Linked DNA regions of Homo sapiens. The protein of the gene in region 1 purifies or fractionates together with the protein of each later gene. This does not show direct contact. Each region holds a gene or a part of one and is shown in the gene's direction. Other genes may lie near its edges.

What was found.
Region 2: the proteins of SEC16B (region 1) and SLC25A31 purify together in Homo sapiens (affinity purification with mass spectrometry; one large-scale study listed by BioGRID and IntAct). This does not show direct contact.

Annotation. Positions count from the first base shown.
Region 1 is NC_000001.11:177,956,338-177,960,381, reverse strand, and holds part of SEC16B (protein transport protein Sec16B), read left to right. Parts: coding exon 1-40; intron 41-1,406; coding exon 1,407-1,542; intron 1,543-2,019; coding exon 2,020-2,250; intron 2,251-4,044. Other genes in the region: CRYZL2P-SEC16B (protein transport protein Sec16B), read left to right, coding at 1-40, 1,407-1,542, 2,020-2,250. UniProt on the Homo sapiens protein: Plays a role in the organization of the endoplasmic reticulum exit sites (ERES), also known as transitional endoplasmic reticulum (tER). Required for secretory cargo traffic from the endoplasmic reticulum to the Golgi apparatus.
Region 2 is NC_000004.12:127,733,400-127,736,899, forward strand, and holds part of SLC25A31 (ADP/ATP translocase 4), read left to right. Parts: intron 1-3,500. UniProt on the Homo sapiens protein: ADP:ATP antiporter that mediates import of ADP into the mitochondrial matrix for ATP synthesis, and export of ATP out to fuel the cell.

The DNA of each region.
Region 1 (4,044 bases):
AGCAAGAGGAGATGAGAAGTTTCTCAGGACCCTTGATTAGGTATAGTGCTGTAAGAGCTGCTGAGTAAGGGCTTTTGAAACCTAGAAAATCTTCCTGCCCAGATCAGCATTTTGGAGATTTGTTCTTGGTTTCCTTGGAAAAAAATATCTGTCCTTGTTGGAGTGGAATTCTCTGTGCTGCAAGATAGAACCAGATGTGGCCTGAGTCATTTTGACAAGCCATTCAATAGTTGAAGGACAGAAAGAAAAATTAGCATGACAGTTTAGAAATCTAAAACCAGTTCCATTATGCAGAGGCTGCATGGTTGGAAGTTTTAGCATTCCGTGTGCTTGATAGATGTTAGTAGAAAAGTGGAGCATCGCCTGGGAAGTCACTGACAAGTGGATCATAGCAGAAACAATTCTTGTAACAGTGGCTTTTTCCTGGAGAGGTAAATAAGATCGGCAGTGTTCAAGTTACAGAACAGTGTGCAAGTGAGCCCTCTGCAGTACTGAACTAGGACTGCTTTTAAATGTCTAGTTATATTTCTGATAAATGTAACTCAGGGCATCTTTGTTGAGGAGAGAGTCCTTGCTGGATGACAGCCCACGTGGGTCTCAGGCTCAGGCGTCTTACTGACTAGGAATACCATGGTGGACAGGTCAGTTAGCCCTCTCTGAACCTTAGTTTTCCCCTTGAGAAATGGTATAACACCTGCTCTCCCTACCCGAGGCTTGTCTATGAGTCTCAAGTCAGATTATGCACATGGAAAGTATCATCACTACTATATAAATGTATTCCTCAAATGGCATTTGACGGTTCCCTCAAGTAAAAATGAGTGTTATCTCTTTCTTACAAACAGGTATACAGATATGGGGCAAAAAAGCGAGTTGGGTATTCAAACACTGGGGTACTAAGCCTAACTTGGCTTTGATGTTATTGGATAATCTTGAGCAAATCATAATGCCAATCATATTGATCACTTAATATATGCCACACAATTTTCTAATTCCTTTTTGTATGGAGGTAGGTCCTTTTACTGTCCCTATTTTAGGGGACAAAGCTGAGGCTCAGAGGAGGTAAGAAACTTGTCTAAACAGAGAAGTGGCAGAGCCAGATTTAGATCCAGGGTTGTCTGACTCCAAAGTCTGCTTTTACTTGCTTTCCTGTGCAGTGACTTCAGGTCTCTGAGCCTCTGTTTCTTCATCTATAAAGGGGGTGCATGAGAGAATCTCTGAAATTTCTTCTTGTTCTATAAGAAAATAACTATCCTATAGCTATAGACTCATTACCTTAGCCCTGGCTTGTCAGATTTCTATCTCAATCACAGCCCAGCCAGCACTTGCACACTTAGGAGGAGCCTGGGGTCCGAAACAGGGAAGTGTCTGCCTGCTCACTCTTTGCTCCCTAAATTTTTTCCATGTAGGGAAGATGTACATAAGGTGGATATTATGACGTTTTGCCAGCAGAAAGCAGCTCAGAGCTGCAAATCTGAGACACTGGGGAGCAGAGACTCAGCTCTACTGTGGCAGCTCTTGGTTCTCCTTTGTCGCCAGAATGGGGTAAGTTCTGTTCTGGTGGGAGAGCAGGTGCAGGCTGAAATTTAAGTCTTCATGGGATAGATAAGATTATGTTTATGACATGATTATGAAAAGCAATATTAAAGAAGCCACAAATTGCCCCAAGGGAAAAAATTGCTCAAATGTCAATGCGAGTTTGCTAACGCAGATCTTCCCTGATGATCTTCTTCCTTGGTCTGGGAAAATTGTACAGTTTCTGGGTTATTGCACCAGCCAGATAATATACCTGTGAAATTGTGAATGTTTCTGGTAAGCTTTATGGCTCCTGACAGGCAGAAAATAACCATGATAGTGATGCTGAAGTCTGAAATATAGCAATCTAACAAAGGACTGCCTTATGTTTGCATAATTGGCTTCCATGTGAAGAAGGCAGGCTCCCTGGTGCCTTCCTTCTCCAGCTGGGGCTGCCAGCCTGAGGACTCATAGGATTCTCCCCAGATGATCCTCTTTGCCTTACAGTCCATGGTGGGGTCTGACATCGCTGAGCTGCTAATGCAAGACTGCAAGAAGCTGGAGAAGTACAAGCGGCAGCCCCCTGTGGCCAACCTCATCAACCTGACCGATGAGGACTGGCCAGTGCTGAGCTCTGGGACCCCGAACCTGCTCACGGGAGAGATCCCCCCCAGTGTGGAGACACCTGCGCAGATCGTGGAGAAATTCACTAGGCTGCTCTACTATGGAAGGAAGAAGGCAAGTATGCCCTTCCCCCATACTTATTTTGAAAAAGCAATCACCATCCCTCTCCACCACTCACCGCTGCTCAAATTATGTGAATAGTATATACTCATTTCAGGGAGGATGCAAGAAGTTCGGAAAGACAGAACAAAGAAAATGAAAACACCCATAGTTCTACCACTAAAAGACAATGAACTATTAAATGAAATAAGCCAGGTACAGAAAAACAAACATCACATGTTCTCACTTATTTGTGGGATCTAAAAATCAAAACAATTGAACTCATGGAGATAGACAGTAGAAGGATGGTTATCAGAGGCTGGGAAGGGCAGTAGGGGAGGGTGGGAGGGAGGGTGGGTGGGTTAATGGGTGCAAAAAAAAGTTAGAATGAATAAGACTTAGTATTTGATAGCACAAAAGGGGAACTATAGTCCATAATAGCTTAATTGTACATTTAAAGATAACTAAAAGAGTATAATTGGGTTGTTTGTAACACAAAGGATAAAGGCTTGAGGGGATGGATGCCCCATTTATCAGGATGTGATTATTATACATTGCATGCCTGTACCAAAATATCTCATATTTTTTACTCCATAAATATATATACCTACTATGTACTCATACAAATTAAAAATAAAAAAGATAATACCTGTTAACATTTTGATACATTTACTTCCAGCATTTTCCCATGCATATATATTAAAAAGAAAATAAAATTGCATATACAGTTGTTTATTTCTCTTTTTAAACTTAAGATGATATGGTAAAATACCCTCATGGCATTATATATACCCCAATAGCGCCATTTAAAAAATAGTTATACAATATTCCATCATATTAATGTATCATATTTTATTTATCTATTCTACTATTATTGAATATTTAGACTATTTATAATTTTGTCAACCACTATAAATTATACCATTTACACATCTTGTTACATAAGTCTTTGCCTGATCTTTTAAATTTTTTAGGGCAGATTCCTAGAAGTGGAATTATTGGGTATATAAAGGGCATGCACTTTTAAAAGGTTCTTTATATATACACCAAATTAATTTCCAGGAAGTTTGTTTACAAATACTCCTGCTGCTATATCTAAGGCTTCCTATCAATATTGAATATAGATGCTCCATGACTTACAATGTTTACATCCCAATAAACCCATCATTAAATAGAAAATATCATAAGTTAAAAATGCATTTGATACACCTAACCCGACATCATAACTTAGCCTAGCCTACCTCAAATGTGCTCAGAATGTTTACCATAACCCACAAAATCATCTAAGCCAGAGTCTGTTTTATAATAAGGTGCTAAATATCTCATATAATTTATTGAATATGCTACTGAAAGTGAAAAACAGAATGGTTGTATGGGCACTTGAATTACAGTTTCTACCGAATGTGTATTGATTTCACAGCATTGTAAAGTCAAAAACTCATAAAGCAGGGACTGTCTGTACTTTAAACAGATGAAGATTGATTTCTAGCTTAATTTTGAAGTTGAGATTATGCTTTACAAAATTCATAAAAATTTAAGTATTTGGATAGATAATTAAAATCAATTTGAATCAATTTAATTCAAAAATTAAAATATAAAAAAGATATACTTGGGAAATGATGCTCCCACCCCCTAGTCACCCAGTTTTCCTCTCAGAAATATCCAGAGAAATTTTATGCATATATTGTTATTTTCTCTTTTCTAAAAAATAGCATGCTGTATACCATTTCTGTACCTTCCCTTTTTGATTTTACAAAATACCTCAGAAAACACTCTATATTAGAGTTGCCGAACTTTTTCTATAATTGG
Region 2 (3,500 bases), on another chromosome or scaffold:
TGCCCATGATGTCAGTGCTCAAAAAGTTTCAGATTTGGAGAATTTTGGATTTTTGGATTAGTGATGCTCAACCTGTGTCATCTGTATTTGTAGCTATTGAATCTATGATGATTGTATGTATACTTGTACACATATTTATTTGACGTATTTCAAAATGTCAATATGCAGTTAATTACAACTGAATCGTTATAAGTAGAGGCAAGCTTGACTATTATATTTTTGGTATGGTCATGACCTACCAACTTCCTTATTTTAAAACATAAATTTCTTGCAATTTGCCTTCTCTTTCTTTTTTGAAAGTCAAGACACATGCACATCTCAGGTGTCCTGAAGATTGTTTTTATGTTTTCTCTAATTTTATTCACAACTTTTCCTTTCTTTAGGCCATGTGAAATGAGCTGGAGAAAGAGATATGAACACAGAATGCACAACTAGATGCTCTCTAGTTTCTTACCTTATCTCTACTTTCTTTCCATTACAAGAATAGATCTCTGCATTCTTGCCTTGAATATAGCTTTAAATATCACTTTGAGTGTTTCTGACACTTTTTATAAGCTTTTCTTGGCTTATGAAAGCTTCTGGATTTATCCTTATGTTGTTCTTAAAGATTTATTATATTCTTTAGTTGGTTTTATCACCTGCCAACTTTGTATGTGTACTTTTATTTAACACTGTTTAAACCTTTATTATGCAAATAATGCATAATTATTGTAGAAAATTAGAAAATATAAAGAAGCAAAAAGTAACATCACTGCTAAAGTCACCACAATTAACATTTTGGTTTTTCACTGAGCAAAATATACATATGTAAATATGTGTTTAATCAAAGGAACTGTCTTATTAGTATATTGTAAATGTAGCCTTTTAAAGAACTGATTTTCTGGGTGTGGTGGCTCATGCCTGTAATGCCAGCACTTTGGGAGGCAGAGGTGGGCAGATCACTTGAGGCCAGGAGTTCAAGACCAGCCTGGCCAACATGGTGAAACCCCGTCTCTACTAAAAATACAAAAATTAGCTGGGCATGGTGGCGCACGCCTATAGTCCCAGCTACCTGGGAAGCTGAAACACAAGAATCACTTGAACCTGGGAAGCACAGGCTTCAGTGAGCCAAGATCGTGCCACTACACTCCATCCTGGGTACAGAGGAAGACTGTCTCAAAAAAAAAAAAAAAAAAAAAAAAAAGATCCGTACAGTCTCATTTTTACAAGCCTATCCAAACTCTTCTCTTTTAGGAGTTCCGTGTCACGAGTTTATCAGCTTTCATCTAAGCTTTTCCCAAACCCATTTTTCTGAAGACTTAGAACAGTGAGGTTTTTTAATATCCTAGGGTCCATCTTGAAGATGCTATTTTGGGGTATGGGAAGAAAATATTAGGTATTTTATTTATATGTACTTTAAGTAAAATACAAAAATAAATTTTACTGATATTTAATATATAAATTGGCATTGTCCCCTATGCTTGGGCCCAATGTCAGTTACATATCACGGGACATTAAGGGATCCTGAAAAAAAGAGTGGGAGTTACACAAGGTAGAGGGAATGACAAGCACCCTTCCTCAATAATATATTATTGTTTATGTTTGCCCAATTAACTGGATTTATAGATTCTATTATCAGGTTTTAACTAAATCCTCAAAACATGGACAAAACTTTGAAAAAGATTCTGCCGTGAAAACCAAATCAAGGGTAACACCAATATCAAATGATGAACCACAAGAAAAAGCTGATGCCATTTACTCCAAGAAATGGCGTATTATTTCATCATTCACATGACATTCAGTGTAGAAACAATGACAGTCTAATTGGACCTGAGACAAGAAGACTATTTGAAATATAGATTCCTATATACTATTCTTAAAAATGAACTTCACCCTAACAGTGCCTTGAGATAATAGTAAATGGTGGTGTGAAAGCATCATAATTAGCAAGATGTTTGAAAATATTGTTTTTCATCTTTTAAATAAATGTTTAACTTTGCTCTAATATCATCTAACATTCAAGTTTCCCTAACAACCCTATCTAAATAGCCTTTTATTATTCCCAATCTTCATATATTGTTTTTTTGTTTACAGTTTTTTATTGCTAACAGACATAGTTATTTGCTACCTGTCTCCCTGGTCCCTCCCTCTTAAGATGTAAGCTCCATAAGATCAGGAACATTGTTCCTAGTGCTGTCCCCAGTAGGCACAAAATGTCTGCTGTGGAGGAGGTACCAAATAAAAGTTTTTAAATGAAAAATCTTTATCTCATTCTTTAATTTATATTTTGAGTATGTTTTACAGATGTACATAATATGGTAGTATAGTTGCAAAGGTATATAATTTATTAATGTATACTATTTGGAAGTCATGCAGACTTTTTTTTTAATTGATAGGCATATCATCAAAACATGTTGAACCTCCCCTGCAAAAAAAAAAAAAAAATGTTGGTTTAGACTGTATATCCAAACATGCCTAACATTCTTTTATTTTATTTATTTATTTATTTATTTATTTATTTTTTTTTTTGAGACGGAGTCTCGCTCTGTCGCCCAGGCTGGAGTGCAGTGGCGCGATCTCGGCTCACTGCAAGCTCCGTCTCCCGGGTTCACGCCATTCTCCTGCCTCAGCCTCCCGAGTAGCTGGGACTACAGGCGCCCGCTACCACGCCCGGCTAATTTTTTGTATTTTTAGTAGAGACGGGGTTTCACCTTGTTAGCCAGGATGGTCTCGATCTCCTGACCTCGTGATCCGCCCGCCTCGGCCTCCCAAAGTGCTGGGATTACAGGCGTGAATGCCTAACATTCTTGTTCTTGGCAAGGCCAGCCAATAAATGGCCCAGTAACTTTTTCCTGTCACTTTTATTTCAATTCTTATTTATTTGTTCAAAATTAGGTTCAGAGCAGGTTTTTCTCATCCTTCTTAAATTTTGAAGAAATTTTTTTCTTAGGAATTAGAAACTTAAACTTTTATTTATTTATTTTACTTTTAATGGAGAAAGAGGTCACCATCACTATATTTTTCTCTACCAATTTTGTGATATATATTAAGAAACCATCCATTTATTCTGTATGACTAGAGAGTCAAAACGTTCCTGCCATTGTATCACTTCTGCTTTAACCTTGTTTTATTCTAACCAAAAAATACTGTTTTATCCAGAATGGATTTTTATATAGAGGCAATAGAAGTGCAGTAACTCTAGACCTCGAGTCGAATGGACCTAGAACCAAGTCTCAGCCTTTCCTATATCTTGTAACTTTGAACAGTTTTTATTTAACCTTTCTCAGCCCCAGTTCCCTCAGTGGTATACTGGTATAATAACTATACCTATCTGATACGGTAGTTGTGAGGATTAAAGAAGATAATGCATGTAAAATATTCAACATGTGTCTACACCATAGTTAGTGCTCAAGTAATTGTTACTAATGTGTATGTGTGTGTTCCTGAATTTATAAACATGTACTCCAGATGTTCATTTGTAAATGAAATAATTTGGGATAAACTTGCATTATGCATAGAGT